3 separate regions of the Homo sapiens genome follow, and regions 2 and 3 are each linked to region 1. The links come from fine-mapping of genetic effects on gene expression. A gene starts in region 1. Each other region holds a variant in brackets. All regions are shown on one strand. Distances are between the middles of the regions. Region 1 holds the start of MAP3K14 (mitogen-activated protein kinase kinase kinase 14). Region 2 overlaps MAP3K14 (mitogen-activated protein kinase kinase kinase 14). Region 3 holds the start of SPATA32 (spermatogenesis associated 32).

What was found. PIP is the estimated chance that this variant, and not a neighbour inherited with it, causes the effect.
Region 2: its variant is the best candidate, but not a certain one, in a credible set for the expression of MAP3K14 in whole blood (INTERVAL, PIP 0.66).
Region 3: its variant is the best candidate, but not a certain one, in a credible set for the expression of MAP3K14 in whole blood (TOPMed, PIP 0.87).

The regions. Positions count from the first base shown.
Region 1 is chr17:45,312,511-45,320,684 of GRCh38, reverse strand. MAP3K14 (mitogen-activated protein kinase kinase kinase 14) reads left to right here and starts at 3,665. Exons shown (of 16, transcript NM_003954.5): 1 at 3,665-3,725.
Region 2 is chr17:45,286,152-45,294,325 of GRCh38, reverse strand. MAP3K14 (mitogen-activated protein kinase kinase kinase 14) reads left to right here. Exons shown (of 16, transcript NM_003954.5): 2 at 3,561-3,836; 3 at 5,021-5,090; 4 at 6,962-7,172; 5 at 7,281-7,895. The coding sequence starts at 3,581. Among named protein-coding and RNA genes, the nearest start is that of MAP3K14, 27 kb to the left of the region's middle. RefSeq lists silencers at 549-843, 3,652-3,855 and an enhancer at 549-843. The variant A/G (reference allele first, on the strand shown) is at 4,039.
Region 3 is chr17:45,254,741-45,262,914 of GRCh38, reverse strand. It overlaps SPATA32 (spermatogenesis associated 32), which reads left to right and starts at 821. Exons shown (of 5, transcript NM_152343.3): 1 at 821-911; 2 at 5,708-5,762; 3 at 6,500-6,539; 4 at 6,842-7,800. The coding sequence starts at 899. MAP3K14-AS1 (MAP3K14 antisense RNA 1) reads right to left here. Exons shown (of 4, transcript NR_110326.1): 2 at 7,697-7,780. RefSeq lists enhancers at 1-383, 818-907, 384-989, 6,253-7,013 and silencers at 938-987, 1,058-1,177. The variant G/AG (reference allele first, on the strand shown) is at 3,881.

The DNA.
Region 1 (8,174 bases):
TTTGCTTCCTTGGTGACATCTAGCAATGTCCAGAGACATTTATTGTCACATTGGGTGGATGAGGGAGTGCTATAGGTATGTAGTAGACAGAGGCCAGGAAAGCTTTTAAACATCCTGCAATGCACAAGACAGCCCTGATGTGGTTTGGCTGTGGCCCCACCCAAATCTCACATTGAGGCCAGGCGCAGTGGCTCATGCCTATAATTCCAGCACTTTGGGAGGTTGAGGTGGGTGGATCACTTGAGTTCAAGACCTGCCTGGCTGACGTAGCAAAACCCCATCTCTACTAAAAATATAAAAATTAGCCGGGCATGGTGGTGCACACCTATAGTCCCAGCTACTCAGGAGGCTGAGGCACGAGAATCACTTGAACCCAAGAGGAGGAGGATGCAGTGAGCTGAGGTCGCGCCACTGCACTCCAGCCTGGGTGACACAGGGAGACTCCATCTCAAAAAAAAAAAAAAAAAAAAAAAATCTCATCTTGTAGCTCCCACAATTCCGTGTTGTGCAAGGGACCCAGTGGGAGATAATTGAATCACTGGAGCAGTTTCTCCCATACTGTTCTCATGGTAGTGCGTAAGTCTCATGAAATCTGATGTTTTTGTAAGGGTTTCCCCTTCACTTGGCTCTCATCATTCTCTCTTGTCTGCTGTCATGTAAGACATGCCTTTTGCCTTCTGCCATGATTGTGAGGCCTCCCCAGCCACATGGAACTGTGACTCCATTACACCTCTTTCCTTTATAAATTACCCCATCTCAGCTATGTCTTTATCAGCAGCGTGAAAACAGGCGAATACAAGCCCCGTCCCCCAACAATGAATTATCCAACCCCAAATGTCTATAGTGCCAGGCTGAGAAACCCTGGCCTAGAGGGAACATTCAGTGAGGTTATGCACATGAAGTACTCTAAGTCTATCTGGCTTACTTTTTGTAAAGTATCAGAAAACAAGCTGCGATTCTTTCGGAATAGCACAGTCTTAACGCTATTTCCAGACCTGAAATGGATGGGGTGTGAGAACCCTTGAGTACTGAGAACCTAGTTCACTGCTCCAGGTGTGAGTCATCCTGTAAATGTCAATTTCTTGTATTTAAAGCAGAGCTGAGGCTGCACAAGTGACTCAAGGCCAGAAGCTTTCCCAGGTTGTCTTGACTTAAGCTTGGAGGAAGTAATCTCGTCCCGAAGCTCTCCTTCCAGAGGGTGCAAGCATTTCAAGACTCAGAGACACCACACTGCTCACTCTGGGTAGGTGTATTGTTTCTCACCTCACCCACACACAGTGGGGCTTGGAAAGACCTCAGAAAAGTAGCTGAAACGGAGAGGCCTTGCTTATCCCGAATATCTTCCTTACCAGTGTTTAGTGGTTTGCTCCTCCCCTGCAACCTGATGTGACATTCCTTCTCCAGAGTTACAGTTTTGAGTCAACACAGTTCACTGTCTCTGATTAATACACATTAATGTTCAGGGACGGACTTAAAGACAGATCATCTTGATGGGGTAGGTGGGAGTGTACAGGGGACCCAGGACCAGAGGTGTCAAGGGAACCTGGGCAAAGTACAGAGACACTGGGTGTTTTAAAGAAGGAATAGTGAAAGAGAGAGAAGGCAAAGGCAAGCCAGGGAGTGTCTGCAGACTCTGGAGGTGTGCCCACATCTTTCCTGAGAAGTGGTGTGCCCAGAGGCAAACAGGTGGTGGGAGAGGCAATAAGGGCATCCAAGATTGCCGATACCAACCTGTACATCTGGCCAAGCTCTGCCTTTCCCTGAGTCACTGAAATGCAAAACCCTAGGGGTGGAAAGAGATTTGGGGGCCACCAGTCCAGCTTCTTTCTTGTCTGCCATCTCCCAGCTAGTCAGTGGCAGAGCCAGGGTGGGCGCCAGAGACTGTTTGGCTCTAAAGCACGGACTCTACGGGAGCCACAACCTCAAATGCTCCAGGGGCCAGACAGGTGACATAAGGTTAGATGGTTGGGTGGCGGGAACTGTAAGGAACCGCAGGCTCTGCTCTAAGGCATTCAAATTCAAATTTAAAAAAATATTGGGCCAGCCAAACAAAGCATATTTCTGGCCTGGGTGAGTGAATGAGGCCCTCAGGTTGTGAGTTTTTGACCACTGCCTAAATAAATGGTCTTCCCTATTCCCCAGCAGAGATGACTGTTTGGCACAGATATCCAGAAAGAAGAGTTCAGCTTCGGACTGTCTGCAAAGTAGTCTCAAGCAGATGGTGGTCTTTGCTCAAACACTTCCAGAGATGGGGTGTTCCTTACTTTTCAAGACAGCCTTGGGTGGGGCCTGCCTATCCCCGGACTAGAGCCACTCACCACACCTACCATGGACCCTTCATGGAAGTGGGATGCCCAGGGTAGGAGTACATCTTTTATTTTGCAATAAAAAAAAAAGTTTGGATTTTTTTTTTAAAGGACTGCCTCACTCTGTTACCCAGGCTGGAGTGCAGTGGCACGATCATGGCTCACTGTAACCTCAGACTCTCAGCCTCCCCTCTAGCTGGGACTGCAAGTGCAAACTACCACGCCTGGCTATTCTTTTATTTTTTTGCAAGGACGAGGTCCTTGCTATATTGCCCAGGATGTTCTCCAACTCCTGGCCTCAAGCGATCCTCCTGCCTTTGCCTCCCAAAAGCGCTGGGATTACAGGAGTGAGCCACCGTGCCTGGCCTGGAATTTATTACAAATAAAATACAAGCTCAGTGTGGAAACACTAGATAATACAGAGGGGCAAAAGTTAGAAAAAGTTTCTATACCTTCCCTACTCCCCACCCCCGACCCCCATTCAGAAAGAAGCACTGTTGACACTTCAATGCATATTCTGAACTCCAGGTCCTTTCTTTGCATACATCAAGCTCTCATCCTCTTGCTGGCTCTGTGGTCTGCAAACCCAGAGAGCAGATGCTTTGCTCAGCGCTCGTACCACGCCACGCACCCACATGCTCTCTTTGTACCTGGGTTTCAACCCACAGGTCGGGCCCCTGTAAGCCCTTGGCTCCCCAAGCTTCTCGAGGGCAGGCACTGTAACCTTCTTTACTCATTCCAGGGATTCTACAGGACCAGGCACACGGTAAGAGCTCAATAAAAACGTCTCTACCCCCACCACCTCCCGCCTCAGCCGCCACCGCTTGGCAGCAGAGAGGAAGCGGAACGCGCGCGACCCACGAGGGAGAGCGCCTCGCTGTCTCCAAGGTAACCGAAGTCAGTGGCAGGGAGTGCCCACGCATGCGCACACTCGCCCTTCCTTCCCGTAACCTCGAGAACGCAGCTGGTAAGACTGCCAGAAGCCGAGGGCGCATGTGTGGTTCCACCAACACCCTAGTCGCCTCCGCCTTCTGTCAGTCCGCCCGCCCAGCGATCTCCCTTCTACAAACATCGTCCGGAAATAGTGCCCATTTCTGGAAACCAGGCCTCGTTAACCAATCGTTGCTAGGGAGCGGGAAGACGGGCTTGCCGGGACGACCGTCTCATTGGTTGGCGTAGGGGAGTGGGCGGGGCCACGGGTCGCGGTGCGGCCAAAGAAAGGAGGCGCGAAGCGAGGCAAAGTTACAGCCTCCGGGGGAGGCGTGGCCCCGGGGGCGGCCGAGAAGGCGAGGGGGCGGAGCCCGGGACCGGGGCGGGGCGACCACGGGCCGGGAGCTCAGCGGTCGGCGGCCGGCGGCGGGAGATCGCGGGCGAGCGGAGCGCAACACTCGCTTGGTTGGGGAGATCGGCGCTTGGCCGGTAGGTGACGGGGCGGGACCCTGGGGCCCGGTGCGAGGCGACCAGGGAGCGGCTGGGATGGATCGCCTCTCAGCCCCGGGCTGGGCTGCGGCCTGGCCCCTCGCCCCGGAGCAGTGGGGTCGGCGGCCAGGCCAGCGCAGTCCGACGTACCCCGTCCAACCCACTCGCAGCGGTCCGCGGGCGCGCCCTCGCACGCGCTGCCGGTGCCGCGCTCGCCCCGGGCCTCCAGGCCGCGCACTCCTGCTGGCCACACGCTGGCTCCGAGCGCGCGCAGGGGCCGCCTGCTTCCCCTTCACTAGTGCCCCGCGCCGCCGCCAGGCCCGCCCGCCTGCTCTGCGCCCCAGTGCCCCCAGGATGGAGCTCGCCTGCCGCGGGGCGGACGTGTCTCCTGCAGGAGTGCGCCCTGGCATCTGCCCTGGCGTGAAACCCTCCCGGCCTTTCATGGGAAGTTCTCAGGTCACACCTCAAGGCGGGGAGCAGGAGCTAAGCCTGTCCTCAGCATGCAGCGGGGCAGTGCTGGCCGCCCGCAGCATCCTCCCTCCGCCCTCGGACCCCAGTCCTCCTCTGTAATTCTTCTGGGCTCTCCAACTCGGGACTTTATCTGTCGGTTCAAATATAACATTCCCATCTTGGAAACCCATCGTGGCCCTGGCATCTTGCAGCCACTGGGCACCAGGCAGAGAGGGGCCACTTGTACGTACGTTTCCCACCTGCCCGGGAGCCTCCTTAGTGCTGGGTAGCTTCAGAAAAAGTGTTTCCTTCCTAGTCGAGGTTAAAAAGTTGCTCTCGGCCCTAAAGGGTGGACTGGAGGTATGAATGAGGGAGAGGATAAGTGGTGAAAAGGTACATACATCAGCAAAGTAAATGGTAAAACTACTTTTGATCGCTGGAGACAATGAACACCAATGACTTAATTAAGGACTTTAAAAGCACATGAAATTAAATGATTAGAGTGAGGTCATGATATAAAATAGGAGTCTGGAGTTTATTCCAAGAAAAATGTTGGAAACCCCTTGACTAGAAACATGGTCTTTCTGAAAGATTAGAAGGAGACAGTATCTTAACATTAGTGATGTGTTTTTTGCTTAGTGTCTTCATACCTGTGAGCTCCGTTTTCCTTCAGATGGCTGTGTGGTAAGACAGATTGTAGTGTCTTGTTTTATGGGCGAGGCACCTGAGGCAGGTGTGTATGAGGGAGTGGGGGTGGTATATATCTTGCCTGATGCCTCATAGCTGGGACTAAGGATGGGTCTTTCCCAGAATCCTAGATCAGGACCACATTATAGAACTGAGATGCAGAAAGGAGGGAGAAGTTTTTGGTGTGGTTTTTATGCTCTTAATGTGAGAGGACACTTAAAAAGTGCTTGCCTTACTTTGGTTGTGTTTGGATTTACTCTTGGTGTTTTTTAAGTGATATCAATCAGTTTCTTTGGAGCGATGCCAGACCTCTGAATTTTTCAGACACCTTTCGGACATCCTTATTTATTTTGAAGGGTGTGGAGAACTTCTCAGAAGATCTCAAAATAAAAGTAATCGTCTCTGACTCTAATTTTAGAGATAAGTACCCAGGTATGTGTACCAGCTCTTTGTGAAATCAGACAGCAAGACGCTGCCAAGCTTCAGGCCATCTTCTGAGTGTTTTCTGATTATAAGAAGCAGTTCTGAAGGGGGTTTTTTGTCATTGGTATTGTCTGTTAAGAGTTTGTGGGAGCGGCACCACAGAGACCCTGCCAAATCAGTCTCCCTCTATTAAACAAAAATGTCTGGTTGGGCTGTTTCGCCTCAACAGATGAAGGTTTGGTTCCTCATTTTGGTTCTCCTGTTGAACACTGACTCCTTTGTGATCTGCCTGGAATATGTGTATATCATTTACTGCTGAGAAGATGGCTTGCGCTGATTGGTTGTCCAGCCCTCGGCAACTGTTGTGATTTTTTTTTTTTTTTTGGTGATTGATAACAGTTCATCCCTGGCTAGGGTCTGGTGAGAGATCTGCGGAGATGTGAAAGAGATGAAAGCTTTATCCAGGGTTGTTTTCTTCGTTGTTGGCACCCTCTGAACAGTGTTGTATCACTTTGGCCTGTGAAGGCACTTTTAACTTCCTATTTTTTTTCCTGTCTCAATGGACAGCACATGGGCTTTCCTAACAAGCCTGCCTGCCTCGATGAAGAGCTGACAGATTCATATTGGTTGGTTTGACAGATGTTCTTTCTGGGGGGAAAGTTCAGAAATCTTAAAAGCAAAGTCAGTCCTAAGTAAAAAGTCTAAGTCAGCCCAATACGCATAAAGGCAGCGTACTTCTACTAATGGCTTCCATCATCTCAAGGTTGTTTTTTTTTTTTTCCTGGCAAAAGGTTAAAATGCAACTAAAATTCTGCTTTCGTGATTAATAAGTCACTACCACAGTTGTGTCTGATGCTTCCTGTTTGCCCCATTTTAGTATTTCAGTTAAACTGGAAACATCTGAGCATTATGGGCACTATTGATGGCACCAGTGTGAAATTGGTGGGCCGGGGACAATTCCATGTCAGTGGATTTAGGGAGCTCTAAGGATGTCAGCCCCTCTGGTCTCCACACACCAGGATTCCCTAGTAAGGGAACAGAATGGGGCTGAGCATCTGCAAGAGCTGGGTGGGCATTCAAAGTGATGCATGTGTGAAGGTTTTGCATTTACTCGGTGATGCTGGCTAAAATGCTGAAAGTAGTAGCCCAAAAAGGGAAGGCCAGACGTAGGGCAAATTGTAGGGGAGCATTTCTGTTGAGCTGAGCAGGACATTGAAGTATGAGATTTTTTTGTTCTGGGCTTATGACTGCCTGAATGACAATGCAGAAAAAGTCATTTTTCTTCAGTGGCCGGTGTGCTCTTTGTATTCTAGTTTAAAGGAGCCTCTTCCCTTCTTGCTTTTCTACATGTCTTAATCCCTCAGCTCCCTGATAGAAATCCCTTGAAATTATGTGGCATCAAGAATAATTTTATGGCCAGTCTTTGTATTTTCACACCATACTCATGTGAAGAAGGGCAGGGACAAAGATCAGAAAAGTGAAGCCTCATAAGGAGAAACAGACAGGATTGCTCAGAATCTAAACCCCCTTTTCTTGATATCTAGGTCACTGCTTTTTCTACTACCTTGCTCATGAAACGATAAGGATTTTCTTCCCCCAAACATGTCAATTTTGAACATAACGAAACCAGGGTAGCAGCTTTATTTATTTATTGTACCAATCAATTATTAATTGATATTGATTTTTAATTAATAAAAGGCCAAAAGATGAATAGCCTGCTGCCTGGACAGGTGTGCTTGTGCCCATTTTCCAGATGTAGAAACAAAGGCAGAGAGCCCGTGATTTGTCCAGAGCAACAGAACAAGTCCTTGGTGTCTCCGTGTCACATGTGGTGGCTGAGGCTGTCAGGTCAGAGAGACCTGGGTCAGGTCGAGGTCTGCCACGGCCTGCCTGTGTGCCCGCAAGCAAATCACTTCACTTCTCTAATCATCAGGTGCCTCATCTGTGAATGGGATCAGAAATACTTCATGGGGCTGTTTTGAGTAGAAAATGAGAGGAGATATGTAAAGTGCTGAGCCCAGTGCCCAGCACAGAACATAGAGGCTGTAACTGTTGTTGTTGTTGTTGTTGTTCTTGTTGGTGGTGTTTGGTGGTGGTAGTAATAGTAGTAGTAGTAGTAGTAGTAATAGTAGCAGTAGTAGTTGCCAATTACTGCATTGTGACTAAACCTGTTTTCTGTAAGATGATGTCAAGAAGGGTCAGACTGCCTGACAGGCCAGAGTCATTTTCTCAGTAGGACCTTTAGGGGGACAGTCCTTCAGTCTAAAAGCTTCAGCTCTCGGGTTCTCCCTGTCTTACACTATATACTGCCCTCACCATACTCCAAATGAGGCTACAAAGGTCCAGGCTCTGCCCAGTTGACAATCCTAACTCTGAGCTGGAGACACAGCTAGGCCTGTCTAGGGGCTTCCTGTGTCCCACACGTGATCAAGTAGGTTCCTGCATTAATCCTGGAGGTGAGGAAAGGGAAAATACTGTATGGCATGTAGATCAGCAAGGACTTGTTCTTTGGGGGAACAGGAGGGAACATTTGGTTCTGTGGGATGAGGTTCCCACTACCACATGGCATCCCCAGCTCACCACCCTTTCCCCCTCGTAAAGATGTCTTTGTCAGCTTCTCTCTGAGACTCTGTCTGGGGGCCCACGATCTGCAGTCAAGGACTTGCAGATTCCCCTTTAAATCTCACAAGAAGCCTGGAATGGTGACGTGTGTTTCTTTAGTCCCAGCTACTTGAGAGGCTGAGGCGGGAGGATCACTTGAGCCCAGGAGGTCAAGTAGCTATGGGCAACATAGCGAGACCCCATCTCTTGAAAGAAAAACGTTTGTTTTAATCTCACAAGGGAAAAAAAAAGTTTCATGTTATATTTTAAAGTCTTTTTTCACCTTAA
Region 2 (8,174 bases), 26 kb after region 1:
CACAGAAGAAAGAACCAACAGTGTCTGTGCATCAGGCCTCAAAGAATATGGAGTGAATTCTGCTCCTTTCCTTTCCTCTTCTGATTTCTTGGGCTTATGGGTGAGCCATGTGGGTTTGGCTGTTGCCACTGCTCGTGTCCTCAACTCTTATGCAGAGAGTAGAGGGCCCAATGCCTTTGGGGCGTGAATAAGCTGAGGAGAGTGTCTAGGCTGAGGAATGAATCAGGAGTTTGACTTGCCTTCAAAGGCAGAGACATAACTGGCTCCCACTTCGTCCTCCCCACACGCTGCAGGAGGGAGAAGGGGCAAAGTGTTAGGGCCATGAGCTGGGGTGACAGCCAGAGACCAAAGTCCAGGGCTGGGAAGGCCCCCTGGCCAGTAGTCCTGGACTTAGTACAGAACCATGATTTTTGTAGACCAGAGTCCAGATAGAATTAGGAAAGGAGGGAGGGAGCAAGTGCATCCGTATGTGTGTGTGTCTGTGTGTGCATGTGTGTGTGTGCATGTGTGTCTGTGTGGGAGGTGGTGTTTGGGGAGAGCCACTGTCAGGCCAAAGTGTCCCAAGAATAGCCTCTTGAACTTGGAGGCTGTCGGTGAGGGTCTGAGTCATGGTGATGTGGCACAGAAAAGCCAGCCACAGGAGGAGCTTTACAGCTCCCAGGCCGTGATTTGTGCCCCTGAGAGGTGAGGGTCAGCCTGTTTTCCCCATGTCCTTCACAAGTTCAGCTGCCATCTGCTGGGTCAGCTTCTCAACAGCCTCCTTGTTACTGTCTGCCTGCCAGGCTGTTGGATGAGTCATCGGGGAACTGCAAAGGAGTCTCTGAGCGTGGCTGCCTCAGCCTCAGCTTCCACTTCTCTGGGAAGAGGGGAGCCTGGTGTGCTCACAGAGGGGCGCTGGACAGCTGCCTACCTAACACCAATATGAAAGGACAACTCTGGGACTCGGGATGCCCTGCACCCCCTCTGGAGGAGTTCTAGCTCAGGATGACCTATCCAGAAGCCTCCGTTGGGCCATGCCAGGCGGAGACAGGCTATCAGAGCCCCCACACAGCCAGATCTCTAATAGCCACGTGCCCCTCAGAGCAGCAACTGCACCACCTGGCCTCATTTTTCTCATTCATCAGGCAGGACTCTCTCTTCCTCCTCAGCATTCGGGATCATCCTGTCTCCAAAGGTTATGGAAAAGCAATCTTTGTCCTTTGAGTCCCTCGTTCAGCCAGCGTCAGTTGCGTGGTCTGTGGCCCCTGTGCTATACACTGGGGAGGCACTGTGTGCAGGGCCCCACCTCTTCCCTCAGGAGCCTGTTGACCAGGGAGGACCTTAGTGTGCCCTCCTGCATTTGCCTGTAACCCAGGAGCTTGGGGAGTGGGCATCATAGCCTAAAGAACCTAGGGTCTGGATCCTGGCCATGTCCTGTCACACGTGGGTTGGGTGACCTTGGGCAAGTCTCCACTGAATTAGGCCTCAGCTTCTTCAAATAGAAATGAGGAGGTCACGCTCACATCGAGCTCCCTGTGAGCATTCCCTACTGCTGTTAGGTTTGGAGACTTTTTGGTCTGTTCTTAAGATCTCATTTCCCCTGGTAAAGAGGCTGAGAACAGTGGGATCGGCTCTGGGCTTAGGTCAGTTTCTTTTTTGGAGGTAGAGTGGGGTGGGGAGGTGTGAGGTGGGATGAAAGTACAGTTACAAGAAGCATAGCCAGCCTTGAAGGGCTTTTGCCTAATTGGATGTCAGAACACCCCTTAGACTTTTTTTTTCTTTTAGAGACAGGGTCTTATTCTGTCACTCAGGCTGGAGAATGCAATGGTGCAATCTCAGCTCACTGCAGCCTCAACCTCCTGGGCTCAAGCATTCCTCCCACCGCAGCCTCTAGAGTAGCTGGGACTACAGGCCAGCTACCCCAGCTAATTTTTTGTATTTTTTTGTAGAGACAGGGTTCCACCATGTTGCCCAGGCTGATCTTGAACTCCTGGGCTCAAGTAATCCTTCTGCCTCAGCCTCCCAAAGTGGTGGGATTACAGGCATGGGCCACCATGTCCGGCCCCCTCAGACTTCTTAAGATCCTCAGGTAACAGTGAGGCCACCCATTCAGCCTCCTCAGCATCTGGCGTTTGGTACCAAATCCAGGCATCCTTGCAGGAAGCTGGAGCTGCTCCAAGTTCAGAGCTAGGAGACCCTTAAAGACAGAGATGCAAGGAACTAATCAATAGTGAACAACAAACCCCACCACACCCGCCAGCCAAGCTGGCAGAGCCTTTCATAGCCATCGAGGTGGGAAGACCAGTGAGGCAGATTCAGAAGGAGGAATGCTTCAACCTAGTACCTCAGCTTCCCACCATCTCATTCAGTCCTCAGGCCTCACAGGGCAAAAGGCCAGAGGCCTTAGAGTTCAGCTTCAGATGGTGTACCTGTCTGCCCCAGAAGCAGAGAAGTGATCCAGGGTTCACAGAGTTATAGCAAGGAAGATGATTTCTGCTGGTAGCAGCTTTAAGACAAACCTACCATCAGAGAGCAGTTATTAAAAATCTGTCTGCATTTGGGACCTTCTCAGGCTGTTTCTAAAGCAAGTCATGCCTGAGAGGGGCCCTGCCCTTTAAAAACTCCCAGCCTTTAAAAAGGTTTCCAAATGGTAACAGTCTCAAATCAGTGCTCTTCTCTTTTTTGCCAATTCCAGTCTGCAGGCTGTTTGCACAGATTGTTGGCAACTCTGGGTTGCTCTTCTTTGCAGCTTCCTAGGGCTGGGCAAGACAGAACCCAGAGAGACGTGAATTCTTATGCTTTATTCTTTATTTCTAGAGGTATAGGTTCGTGTTAGGGCCTTGAATATAAATTCTACTCCTGATGTTGCCTGAATGAAAAATGATACCTAGAAGTTTTCAGCCAATGAGTTTGGACATTAGAGGAGGAAGCATGTTAGTTCCTTCTGGAGAGCCACAAACAGACGCATTGGGCAAGGAACCACGTGCTGAGCACCATTTGCATGCTGAGTTTTAGACTTTGTAGGACACACACACACACACACACACACAGATATCTACCTCCTACTAGGGAACAGAATAGAACCTTGCTTCTCTCCACTTGGAGAAAAGTCGCTGTGGATGGTGTGTGCCAACAGGTCCTCTCCAAAGGCTTATGTGGGGTCAGTGAGGCCATGGTTTTGGAGTCTGGGATTCACCACCCTGTCCTGGGGAAACAAAGTTTGCCATAAAACAACAGAAAAAGATCGAGCCATCATAAAGGCAAGAAAGAGCCAACCCAGACATTTGTGCCACAGCTCTCCTAGAGGGAGTGGGCTGGCATCCTTGCTGGACACAGTGAAGGAGGCTGTTTATGTTGTGGTACTGGGAGGACCGGGGGACTGTGCCGTGTGGAACGTGTAGCTGTTGAGAGGTGGACTCTGTTACCATTGAGGATGTTTGGAGGATGAGTATGTGTGGCAGAGGCACACATAAACAGGCAGAGACCCTTTGCCCCTGCCTTTCTCCCCCAACCCAAGGCTGACCTGTGTTCTCCCAGGTCTGGGATTCTAAGTGACCTGCTCTGTGTTTGGTCTCTCTCAGGATGAGCACAAGCCTGGGAGATGGCAGTGATGGAAATGGCCTGCCCAGGTGCCCCTGGCTCAGCAGTGGGGCAGCAGAAGGAACTCCCCAAAGCCAAGGAGAAGACGCCGCCACTGGGGAAGAAACAGAGCTCCGTCTACAAGCTTGAGGCCGTGGAGAAGAGCCCTGTGTTCTGCGGAAAGTGGGAGATCCTGAATGACGTGATTACCAAGGGCACAGCCAAGGAAGGCTCCGAGGCAGGGCCAGCTGCCATCTCTATCATCGCCCAGGCTGAGTGTAGGGGCCTAGGGTTGTTGTGGGCACGGGGCAGGTGGGTGGGCCTGCAGGTGGGTAGCTGGGCCCAGGGGTTCCCTATGGAGGAGAGAGGTCTGTGTCACTGCTAGATAAGATTCTCATGAGACACAACCAGAGGTCTGTGCCGAGAATCATGGAAAGTGGGGTTGTAAAAGTGCACAGATGGTGGATGTGGCAAGGGGAG[A/G]CTGTGCCCATCGTGACTGGAGCAGGGGAAGAGAGGTAACAGACGAGCACTCGGGACTCTGCAGAATCATCAAGCAGGCCATCAACCTTCTGCTGTGACCTTGAGCAGCCCCAGTGTCTGGAGAGGCTCCAGACAGGAAAGGCCAGGTCTCCTGGAAAGCCCCACTGGGGCCTGTAGGGCCTTCACCATCTTCCACCTAGAGGTGGCCCCACCCCCAGGAATGAGCACCGTGCTCTTGAGCCTGCTGGGCCAGTCCTGGGGCGGCAGGCTGCTGCAGGGTGAGACCTAGTCTGGTCCTTTCTTCTTCTACTCATGATACCTTATGATGACTAGTAATGGTGGCTTCCCTTGGAGACAGAAACTCCCACGAGGCCTGGGTAGGGCCGGGAGTCCTCTCTCTCCAACGCCTTCCCTCAACCCGGGAGGCTTCTTGGGGTGGAACCTGGAGAGCTGGACAGCCATGCTGTCATTTCTCCACACGCATACATCCTGCCCTCGTCTCCCACTTCCTCCTGGTTGGTTTTTGAGGAGAGATGAGAGAATAAAAACTAAAATACAGAGAGTGACATAATAATTGTTTTAAAAAAATACACATATATCCACACTTATATGTACACACATATATAAATACCTAATAGCTGTTTTTCCTATGAGCCAGGCACTGTGTTGAGCATTTTCTGTAGATCATCTCACTTCAGCTTCATAGGAAGTGAGGCGGGCGCCCTGTGATCCCCATAATATAGGCTTGGCTATTTCAGAGCAGGTGGCTGAGGCCGTGGTCTGCTCTTGACCAGTAAGCTGAGAAGCTGGGGAGAGACAGTGCGGGAAGGAGGCATTGGTGGGGAGGTGACTGCCAGACAGGGGTTGTCTGGAAAGGAGGGGAAGGAGAGGCGCCAGAGGGGATCTCTGTAAAATGTCTCTCCCCTAAGTGCTAAATTCCTATTTTTTCTCCTCTCTGCTAATCCAACTCCTTTTGCTTTAGGTGAGAATAGCCAAGAGTTCAGCCCCACCTTTTCAGAACGCATTTTCATCGCTGGGTCCAAACAGTACAGGTAAGCAGGGGAGACAAGCCTGAGTGGGAAGGTGGGGACTGGACCCAGCGCCCTCGTCCCCAGCACTTGCCTGGGCCGCTCCTGCTGACCCCGGGCTCCCTCCCTCAGCACCTGTGGTTCAGCTCCTGGAACTCACCCAGGCTTTCCTGGCTGAGCCGCTCTCTCAGCCAAATAAGCTTTTCAAAGGCTTTTCACAGCTTGTGGCTGACTGCCTCTGGGCCACATCAACTTGACATTTTATTTTTATTCTCCTCAGAGTCCTTAATGCACCCCCTCGTTTCCCATCAACAGGGAGGGTGCTGGGAACAGAAGCTGCTTCCCACTCTTGCGTGACCGTGAGCGCAGGCCGGGTTGGTGGGGGGGGCCTTCCACTGTCCTCTATGGGAGAAACCTGCTGGTGCCTTTTCTCCTGGGAGATGCACCGAGTAGGGATGCGGGCGGTAGAAAAGGAGGGGACAGATAGACTTGGTGGCCCGGTAGAAAGGAAGCCAGGGTGGGGCTGAGTCTGTTCCCAGGCTCTGCATTCCCCCACAGATGATTTTTTGAAACAAGAGTTCAAGTGCTGGGCACAATGGCTCTCACCTATAATCCCAGCACTTTCTGAGGCCGAGGCAGGTGGATCACGAGGTCAGGAGATCGAGACCATCCTGGCCAACATGGTGAAACCCCGTCTCTGCTAAAAATACAAAAATTCCCTGGGCATGGTAGCGCATGCCTGTAACCTCAGCTACTCAGGAGGCTGAGGCAGGAGAATCGCTTGAATCCAGGAGTCGAAGGTTGCAGTGAGCCGAGATTGTGCCACTGCACTCCAGCCTGGTGACAGAGTAAGATTCTGTCTCAAAAAAAAAAAAAAAAACAAGAGTTCAAGCTAGAAACAGCTCCTTCCCCTATCACCAGGCAGGTTTTGTATCATTGGAGTTTGGAACCTGCTAGTGATAAGATTGTGGGGAGGGCAGCTGGCTGCCTTGGAACCAAGAAATGCTCAGTTTGGTGGGATTCCTTCTGCTGTCCTGGGTGCCTTTTGGCCCAGGGTAGGAGCCTCTGATAGACACACTTCTTTCAGCTGTCCAAGAGAAGCCTGTAGGCCTCCAGTGGTCCCCAGGACTGCCATGAGTCTGCCTTCTCCATGGGGGCAGAAGATGAGGCCAAGGGAGGGTGGCTGAGGCCATGATCTGCTCCACAGCTGTTCTGCAGCAACCCATCTGTTGCCGGGTCCTTTAATACTTGGCAGGGATCCCAGTCCAGTTAGAGCCATGGCAGTGATGAGCCCCGAGGCCAGCAGAGAAGGGCAGGCTCCCCAGTACCAGGCAGCAGCCCAGGCTGTTCACCTTCAACAGCAGCCAGGGACCCCCAGGAACTGTGAGAATGGAGGTGACCAGCCTTACCTGTTCCTCCATCCGGAGGCAACAGAAACAAGCTCTGCTCAGTCAGAGCTGAGAGGCCTGCCATGAGCGTGGCCCCCTCCTAGGAACTCTCCAGGGGCAGCTCACCTTGGAGAGCAGTGAGCGAACCGTGTCTGCTCCCCTGACTCTCCCCAAGAAGTGCTGAGTCTGTACCCCATCACCATAGTAACAAGCACAGCTTCTCGGCAGCTTGCCTTGGGGCCAGACACTGAGCTGGGCTTTTTAAATGAACTAAATTATTGAAACTTCATTTCCACCCTGTATGGCAGAAAATACCAAACCCATTTTATAAGTGAGATAAGTGAGAAAACAGGTTCCTTGGGATTTAGAAACCTTGCCGCATTCACACAAGGAATGGCAACCTGGGATTTGACCTTGGATCTGCAGGAGTCCAGATACAAGTGTCTGGACCAGTCCATCTTCCTGCTTCCTCGTGCTCAATATGCAAATCTGTCCCTTTTGTGACAGCCAGTCCGAGAGTCTTGATCAGATCCCCAACAATGTGGCCCATGCTACAGAGGGCAAAATGGCCCGTGTGTGTTGGAAGGGAAAGCGTCGCAGCAAAGCCCGGAAGAAACGGAAGAAGAAGAGCTCAAAGTCCCTGGCTCATGCAGGAGTGGCCTTGGCCAAACCCCTCCCCAGGACCCCTGAGCAGGAGAGCTGCACCATCCCAGTGCAGGTGAGACCCTCCACCCACTGCCCAGACCCCAGGTTCATGGGGCCTTGAAATTGGAGCCTGTCCCTGGGCCCTGGCCCTCTGTGCTGATAGCTGTGTTTCCCCCCGCAGGAGGATGAGTCTCCACTCGGCGCCCCATATGTTAGAAACACCCCGCAGTTCACCAAGCCTCTGAAGGAACCAGGCCTTGGGCAACTCTGTTTTAAGCAGCTTGGCGAGGGCCTACGGCCGGCTCTGCCTCGATCAGAACTCCACAAACTGATCAGCCCCTTGCAATGTCTGAACCACGTGTGGAAACTGCACCACCCCCAGGACGGAGGCCCCCTGCCCCTGCCCACGCACCCCTTCCCCTATAGCAGACTGCCTCATCCCTTCCCATTCCACCCTCTCCAGCCCTGGAAACCTCACCCTCTGGAGTCCTTCCTGGGCAAACTGGCCTGTGTAGACAGCCAGAAACCCTTGCCTGACCCACACCTGAGCAAACTGGCCTGTGTAGACAGTCCAAAGCCCCTGCCTGGCCCACACCTGGAGCCCAGCTGCCTGTCTCGTGGTGCCCATGAGAAGTTTTCTGTGGAGGAATACCTAGTGCATGCTCTGCAAGGCAGCGTGAGCTCAGGCCAGGCCCACAGCCTGACCAGCCTGGCCAAGACCTGGGCAGCAAGGGGCTCCAGATCCCGGGAGCCCAGCCCCAAAACTGAGGACAACGAGGGTGTCCTGCTCACTGAGGTAACTAATCCCCCGGCACCTGTATATGTCCCTCTACCAGCAACCTGGGGGATGCTTTTCTCTCTTTATCAGAGTCACTCTTGCCTGTGGTGACAAATCAAACAGTAGGACAGTGCTCATTGTGGATGAAAAGTATCATCTCTTATTCCGCCAATCTCACTTCTCACAGCCTTTTTAGCGTCTTCTGTTCTGAGTTCTTCTGGTTGGTCACCTCCTGCTTGCTGAATGTGGGCACTGCATTAATAGTACACATGCTGAGGACAAGGGGAATCAGCCAGG
Region 3 (8,174 bases), 58 kb after region 1:
GCAAGATACCTTGCCCGGTGGCATCAGGGAAGTCCCTCGCCAAAATATGCCAGGCTGAGGGGTGGAGGAGGAGGACAACAAAGCCTGCATGCTTTGTGCCACTGCCCAAGTTAGGCAGCCCCCTACCACCAGAAGGGAAATAGGGATGGGTTCTGGGCCCTGACCATCCAGGGATGCCGGATGCACACCACAGGCCCTCCACCCTCCCCTCCTGTCCTTGAGGCCTGGACTCTTAACCCTTTCCGCTGCCTCCTGAGCCCTGCATGGGGCCAGGGATGCCTTTGTGGGCTGAGTTCCTTGGTCATGGAGCTGGGGCACACGGGGTGCTGAGTTCCTTGGTCATGGAGCTGGGGCACACGGGGTGCTGAGTTCCTTGGTCATGGAGCTGGGGCACACGGGGTGCCTTATCGAATCTGGCTCCACACTCCCTGTGTGCACAAGTGTGTGTGCGCGCGGCTTGGGTTGGTTTAGCCGGTTCTTGGAAGGGCCCTGGGACCACGAAAAGGGCGGCAGCCCTGAGCCGCTGGCGTGCAGAGCGGGTGCAAGTCCTGTCCAGCACAGCCAGGCTTACCTGCCGCCTGCCTCTCGCTCTAGGCCCGCTGCGGAAGCGCGAGCCCCACCCCCGAGGTCTTCGGAGAGGAAGGAGTTCTGGCTTCGGGCCCGCAGCCTTCGGAGGACGCCTCACTCGGGCCGTCCCCCGTCCGCCCGCCCGAAACCTAAATGCGGCTCCCTGCCTGTGGGGTCGCGGCGGGGACGTCACAGAGGCGGCGACATCACAGGCACCGGCGCCTCTAATATTTCCAGCGCCCACCAGTCCCTCAGCCAAAGAGCACACTGGAGGCGGAGAGGCAGCATCCACCAGCCCGCTCCCCGCCTCCAGGACAGAGCCTCGGTCTGCATGGGGGTGACAGGTGGGAGCGGCCGAGCGCCCGGGGGCGAGGGTTGGGGCAGGCGGGGAAAGCGAAAGTGAGAGGGGGAGGGGCGCGAAGGGGGCGGTCAGGAATCCGCCCAGGGCCCGTTCCCCTGCTCCCAAACCCCCGGCACCTGAAAGGCAGGTCGACCCGCCGCCAAAGCCCACCCGGTGCCCCTGACTACGGCTCCCAGCCTCAGCCCCTGCGCGGTGCACACCCATGTGCTCTCACGGACACGCATGCGCGCCTTGGAGTAGGGACTGCAGAGTCAGTGGTTCTTGAAGGGGTTCTGAGACCACAGAAGGAGCAATGGCCTTGTGCACAGGAAACGACTCATGAATTATCCTGAACTGCAGATCCAAAAAATCACATCCAGTTGTCCCTCCTTGATGCTTGAGGCTTTGCAGGGAGGAGCGGCAGTCTTCAGCACATTTTTACGGAGCGCTTCGTTGATGCCTTGTACTCTTCTCTGAACCAATGAGCAAAGATGTTTGCCCCCAGTGCCCTGTGTCTCCCCTTCCCATAGGGGCGTCAGATCCCCCACTGAAATGGTGGCTTTCTTTTGGGGATCCTCTCTCCCAGAAGGGCATGGGCCAGCATTAAAAACGGTCAAAAATTAGGTGGGCATGATGGCTCAACGCCTGCAATCCCAACACTTCGGGAGGCAGAGGTGGGAGGATCACATGAGGCCAGGAGTTCAAGATCAGCCTAGGCAACATAGCGAGACTTTGTCCTCTACAGGAAATGTTTAAAATTAGACAGGTGTGGCGGCATGAGCCTGTAGTCCCAGCTACTTGGGAGGCTGAGCTGGGAGGCTCACTGGAGCCCAGGAGTTGCAGTGAGCTATGATGCTGCCACTCCAGCCTGGGCCACAGAGCAAGACCCTGTCAAAAAAAAAAAAAAAAAAACCAGAGGTCGGGTGCAGTGGCTCACGCCTGTAAGGTAAAACGTAGATTAGACAGCCAGGTCTGTCATGGAGAGGATTACACTGATTATTTGAATTGGGCTTTCAGGCATGAGTAGGACTTTGCCAGAAGAAGGCTTTCCAGGTATAAGAAATAGCATTTGCAAAGGCACTGGGTGCAGAAAGGCCTGCGGTACTCTGGGGGTAGCTTCGGCTTAGGGTGAGGGACAGGAAGCTGGATGCCAAGAGATGAAAAATGAAGGTAGAGATCAGACCAAGAGGCCACATGGAGTCTGGGGGTAACCGGAGACAAGTGAGATGTAGCAGGCTCACTCTGAGGTCATTGAAAATCCAGGTTGGAGGGGGACATAGTTGCAGTGGTCCCACTGGAAGACTAAAGAGATTTAAGACAGTGCAGTGAGTAGCATCCCAGAGTTTGGAGCCAGCCAGACCTGCCTTTGGGTCGTGTGCTGCTCTTAATAGCTGCATGACCTCATACACGTTTCCTCATCTGTGAGAGGAGAGCCGTGGCCAACTGGGCATAGGGTAGGTATGAAGACTGAATGTGCAAAGCACTCAGCACCAAGTGCCAAAGGGTAGGAAGTCATGGGTGTGTGCTGGCTCTGGTACTGGGAGATGAGGACAGCATCAGGGGTAGGAGGGCAGTAGCTGCGGAGGGAGGAGGAGTCACAAATGACCCAGGTTTCTCATTTGGGTGAAAGGATGAAGGATGAATAGGGCGAGGAGAGTGGGGTATGGAGAGATGACAGACTAGAAAGGGAGACAGGGGTCAGACAGGCAGAACCGTGGCAGCCACACTTAAGAGTCTGGACATACAAGATATGAATTTGAGGTAAGAAATTAGGCCAGGCATGGTGGCTCACGCCTGTAATCCCAACACTCTGGGAGGCCAAGATGGGAAGATCGCTTGAGCTCAGGAGTTTGAGACCAGCCTGGGCAACATACTGAGACCTCATCTCCTTTTTTTTTTTTTTTTGAGACAGAGTCTTGCTCTGTCACCCAGGCTGGAGTGCAATGGCACCATCTCGGCTCACTGCAACGTCTGCCTCCCGGGCCGAAGCCATCCTCCCTATCAAAACCTAACAAAGACATTACAAGAAAAGAAAATTATACACCGATATCCCTCATGAATATGCATGTGAAAATTCTGAAAAAAAGCCAATCAGATTCAACAACATAGAAAAAGGGTAATATATCACAACCAAATGAGGTTTATCCCAGTAACGCAAGGCTGATTTAACATTTTAAAAAATAAATTTATAGCTGGGCATGGTAGCTCACACCTATAATCTAGCACTTTGGGAGGCCACGGCAGGTGGATAGCTTGAGCCCAGGAGTTCAAGACCAGCCTGGGCAATATAACAAGACCCATCTCTACAAAAAATACAAAAATTAGCTGGGGGTGGTGGTGAACACGTGTAGTCCCAGCTACTCCAGAGGTGAGGTGGAAGGATCACTTGAGACAGGGAGGTTGAGGTTGCTGAAATTGCGCCACTGAACTCCAGCCTGGGCAACAGAGTGAGACCCTGTCTCAAAAAAAACAATGTATTTTACCATAAACAGAATATAAAAATATAAAAGAATTATCACTCAAATAATATAACATTACTCATATGTTAATGTATTATAACGTATGTTATGTATAACATATATAATATCATATTAAAGAAAAACCATATGATCATCTCAATAAATGCAGAAAAAGCATTAGGCAAAATCCAGCATCCATTCCTAATTAAAACTAAGCAATCTAAGAGACGAAACTTCACAAAGATGCCCAAGCTAATGAAAGGCATCATGAAGAAACCTACAGCTAGCATCATCCTTAATGGTGAAAGGCTAAACACTTTCCCCTAAGCTCAGAACGAAGCGAGGATGTACACACGCACTCCTACTCAACATTGTATGGAGATTGTCCCCAGTGCAATTAGGCAAGTAAAGAAAATAAGAGGAACCAGATTGGGAGGGAAGAAGTAAAAGTGTCTTGACTCACACACATTATTGTCTATGTAGAAAATCCGATAGAATCTAAAAGAAAAAAAAA[G/AG]CTATGAGAACAAATAAGATTTTAGTATAGTTGCAGGATACAAAAGATGGATATATTTCTGTATACTAGCAACAAACCACTGGAAATTGAAATTATTTCGGCCAGGCACGGTGGCTCATGCCTGTAATCCCAGCACTTTGGGAGGCCGAGGCAGGCAGATCATTTGAGGCCAGGAGTTTGAGATCAGCCTGGCCAAAATGGTGAAACCCCATCTCTACTAAAAATACAAAAAGTGAGCTGGGCGTCGTGGCGCATGCCTATAATCCCAGCTGCTCAGGAGGCTGAGTCAGGAGAATCGCTTGATCTCAGGAGGCGGAGGTTACAGTGAGCCGAGATCACACCACTACACTCCAGCGTGGGTGACAGAGTGAGACCCTGCCTCAAAAAAAATTATTTCAATTATTTCATATACTGCAGAATATCACTTGAATCCCTAATAGAACATTCTCAAGTCAGGCAACGAGGTCCCAAGCTGAGTCAATGTCTGACTTTTTCTCCCAGCCCCCAGTGCTGTTAAGAGGCTCACACAACAGTAATTTCTTCTCCTGTCCATACCCAGCTGCCGTTTATGGAGGGGTTGAGGCTGTGGGTGTTGATTAAACTGCCCAGGGAAATTCTGTAAAGGGAGCAAAGGCCCTGAGGTCAGAAGCCTGGGGGAACAGCAGGACCTGGGACAGGGGGAGTTGGAGAGGGAGAAGAGAGACACGTGAGGAAGCCAGGGAAGCATAGTGGTCAAGGAGGTGGAGGGTTCTGAAGAGATCATTGAGCCGGCCACTCTGCTGATACATCCCCCAAGACCAGGCTGAAGCAGATGGTCCCAATCCCAAGACCAGCCATGCAAGGACCCCTCCCTCCAGCCACTACATCTCTAGGAAGAGACCGCAGTACATTCTCATCCTTCCAATATGATCCTGGGAGCGATTCTTCCCAGCCAGAGCCAGGGCTGTCACTTCCTGCCATACCCCAGGCTGATGGGGACCCACCTTGCATGATGGCAGGGTTGTCATGATGGCCCCACCATCAACCCCTATGCATGGCCCTGGGTAGCAGAGAACAGGGCAGCCTGGTGCTTCCCACTCCCACAGGGTGAAGAAACAGCTTCTGCAGTAAAAGATACAAGCCTCCAGGGAGGGGTTTGGGGTTGCGGACGTTCCCAAGGAGTCAGTCTCCCCTGCAGAGGGTGATCTGAGCTCATAAATCGTCGGATAGGTGCTAGCACCACCTCAGATTACACACCTGGGGTGCAGGCCTTGGCCTGGAGTCAGTGATGGATGACCCAGAGAGAGGAGAGGAAGCCGGCAGAGGAGCAGGAATGGGGAGATGGGGGAGGTTCACATGGGGCGTTATTGGGACTCCACGCAGTTACAGGGTCCTGGGAGTAGCCGGTGGGGGCAGGGAGTTAAGAGTTTCCTGAGTCAAGCCTGCATTCAAGTCATCACTTCAGCTATGTTCAGCTGGGGGACCTTGGGCAAATGGACCTGTCCTAATTTTTTGTGTTGAATCAGTGAGATAAAGCAGGTAAAGTGACCAGGCTATGGAAGCGCTCTGTCATGTTCAGGGTACTGTTAGCAGTCACGGTTTTGGGGGATGGAGATGGAACCGGGAGCCTCCGAGGAGGCAAGGCACAGACGGAGAGTGGAGGGAGCAGGACTGGAGGATAGGAATGGCGACCGGCTCGGGAACAAGGAGAGCGGGGCAGGACGGTGAGGGGGAATAGCAGCCGGGAAGAGAGAAAAGAAGGGCAGGAAAAGGGGGCTGGCTCCGGAATCCCTCTGGGACTGTCCTCTACCCTGCAGCTCCCTGCCCTCACCTCCTTTCCCCTGTCAGGTGCCCATGGATTTCCATGCTGCGGCAAAGGGTCAGTGGAGGTTGCAGAGATGCGGTGAGAACCATCCTCAATCAACGTAGGGCCTCCCCCGAGCCCTCCAGGACCTCCGACCTCACCCCCAGCCTAGGATCCCCCAGCCTAGGATCTCCCTCCCTTCTGCCATTTCCAAAACCTCCCCGGGGCCAGTGTCCAGGCCAAAAGGCTGGGGAGGGCGTGGGGCGCCTATCCTCCCACTTCTGTTTATGCCCTCAGCCCCTGGCATGAGAGGAAGACTGAGGGGTGGTGGGGCACACCCAGGGACAGGATAGGACCTGACCCCTCAGAGCTGCCTGGCTTGCTGAGGACAGAGCTGCTCAAGGCGGGGGTGGGCAGGCACTTGAAGAAAGAGTGGGCAGGTGGGTGGGAGGACATTGCTCTGGGGCTCCCCTGCTGGGGACTAGTGTTCTGGGCACTAATCCTCGAAGTGAGTTGCCCCAGCTCACCTGCAGTGCTTGATAAAAATGAGATTCCTGGGCCTTACCTCCAACCAACTGGATTCCTCTTTGGGGGTGGGGCATGAGTTGGCAAGCAGCTTCCTAAACTCACTAAAGTTTCAGAATACAACCGCAGACTTCCTGGTGGCAGTGGAGTGGGACAGCAGGGGAGTGGATGAGCTGGTGGCGGGGTGGTCGGCGGGAGGTGCATCGTGCCAGCTTCTGTTACAAGGCAGAGGGCTTTGAGGGCCCCAGAAACCCCCTTCCCGCTGAAGCCCCACAGATCCCCATCACCCACTCTGTCTTCTTCTGTCTTAGAGATGACTTAAGTCAACACCAGATACAAGAGGAACAGGAGGTAAAAATGGGAGTGTCCTCTTACGGGGAGGTGGTAGGCAAGCGGCAGGGCTCTTCCCTAAGTCCCCACCAGCCCCTACCCTTGACAATCCTGGGACCCTAGTACCAGGCCGGTGTGGGTACACCCACACACACACCCCCTCACCGGGCAGGTCTCTGAGAGGAGGCAGGCATGGGGTTAGGGGGCGGGGGGAAGACAGCAGGACCCAGGGCAGGGGTGGGGCAGGGACTCGGTGCCAGGGAGGGCCTCAGGGGCAGGACCTCCCGCTCCTGCCTCCTCAGCTTTGAGTTGAAACATTTCAGCTGGAGGCAGACATGCTAGAGCAGAAGCCCCAACTCCAAGTGGACCTGGACCTGGACCCAGACCCAGACCCAGACCCAGAACTGGAGATCGGACAGGTGCCGGCTTTACTGGAGTCAGAGCTATACCCAGCCCTCAAGCTTGAAGCTGAGCTGGACACGGAAGCCAACTCGAACGAGGAGTCTGACTTTGAAGAACCCATGCAGCTGGTATGCAAGATAGAGTCCGTCCACTCCAACATGGGGCTGCCCACGCCACAGACCTTCAGACCGTGGAGTCTGAATTCAAACTGCCGGAGTTTCACGGAGGAGAACCACGTGTCTGCCTGCCATCACTCCATCAGTGCGCAGACCTCCAAGCACCTCTTCTGGGCAAACAAGCTCATCCAGGCCTCAGAGCACAGCCTGCAGCGGGCCATCAACATGCAGCTCAACAATGGCAGCGCAGGCCAGCCCATCAGATCCCCGCTCCGGGAGGCCATCCCCACCAACGCCCTGTGCTCCGAGGAGCAGCTCCAGATCCCTGATGCCCACTCAGCTCCTCCAACCACAAGCTCCCAGGCACCAAGCCCCCTCCTGTCCTCAGATCTCCCGCCACCCATTGACCTGACAGAGCTAATCACCTTTGCATCTTCCCTGGCCATGGCCTCCTCCAGCAGGATGGACCTGCCCAGTTTGGAACACATGATGAAAGCTCCACCCCAGGAGGCTCTGGAGCCTTCCACAGAGCCCCTCCTGACCACTGTGGAGGAGCGAGAGCCAGAAAATCACGCAGAGACCCTGCCAGAGAAACCACGCGAAGCCAGAGCACCACTGAAATCTTGGAGTCAGGAAGACAAGAACTTCGCTCAATCTTACTTTGACTTCAGCAAGCCGGGGATCAAGAGGGCCACCATCAAAGGGCAAATCCAGCTTCTCCAGCCACCAGCCACGTCCCCTCTGCTGCAGGGAAGCAAGGAAGAGTGAGTGAGGCCAGCCCCGCAGCTCCCATAGAGGGGCTGTGCTAGAACGTGGCAGGGGTCCTCACACAGCTGGGTAGGGGTGGGGAACAGTGGAATGAGGGCCTGGGAGCAGGATGTGGTGGGCTGTGACGCCTCCACCTCAGTGACCTCATAAAGGCTGTTGGAACGAGGTTCCAGTGGACTGAGGCGCAGAGCCAAGGCGAGGGCTGGAGGAGGCCTGGGGACCAAGGAGGGTGGGCACAGGGGCCTGGGTTCAAAATGGGAAGGACCACACTGGCATTAGGCGGCTTTCCACCCTGGGGGTCGGGCCTCACCAAGGTTGGGAATGCTCAGGCTGGGGTCTGCCCTGTTGAAAGCCTGTTGGCCCCAACCCT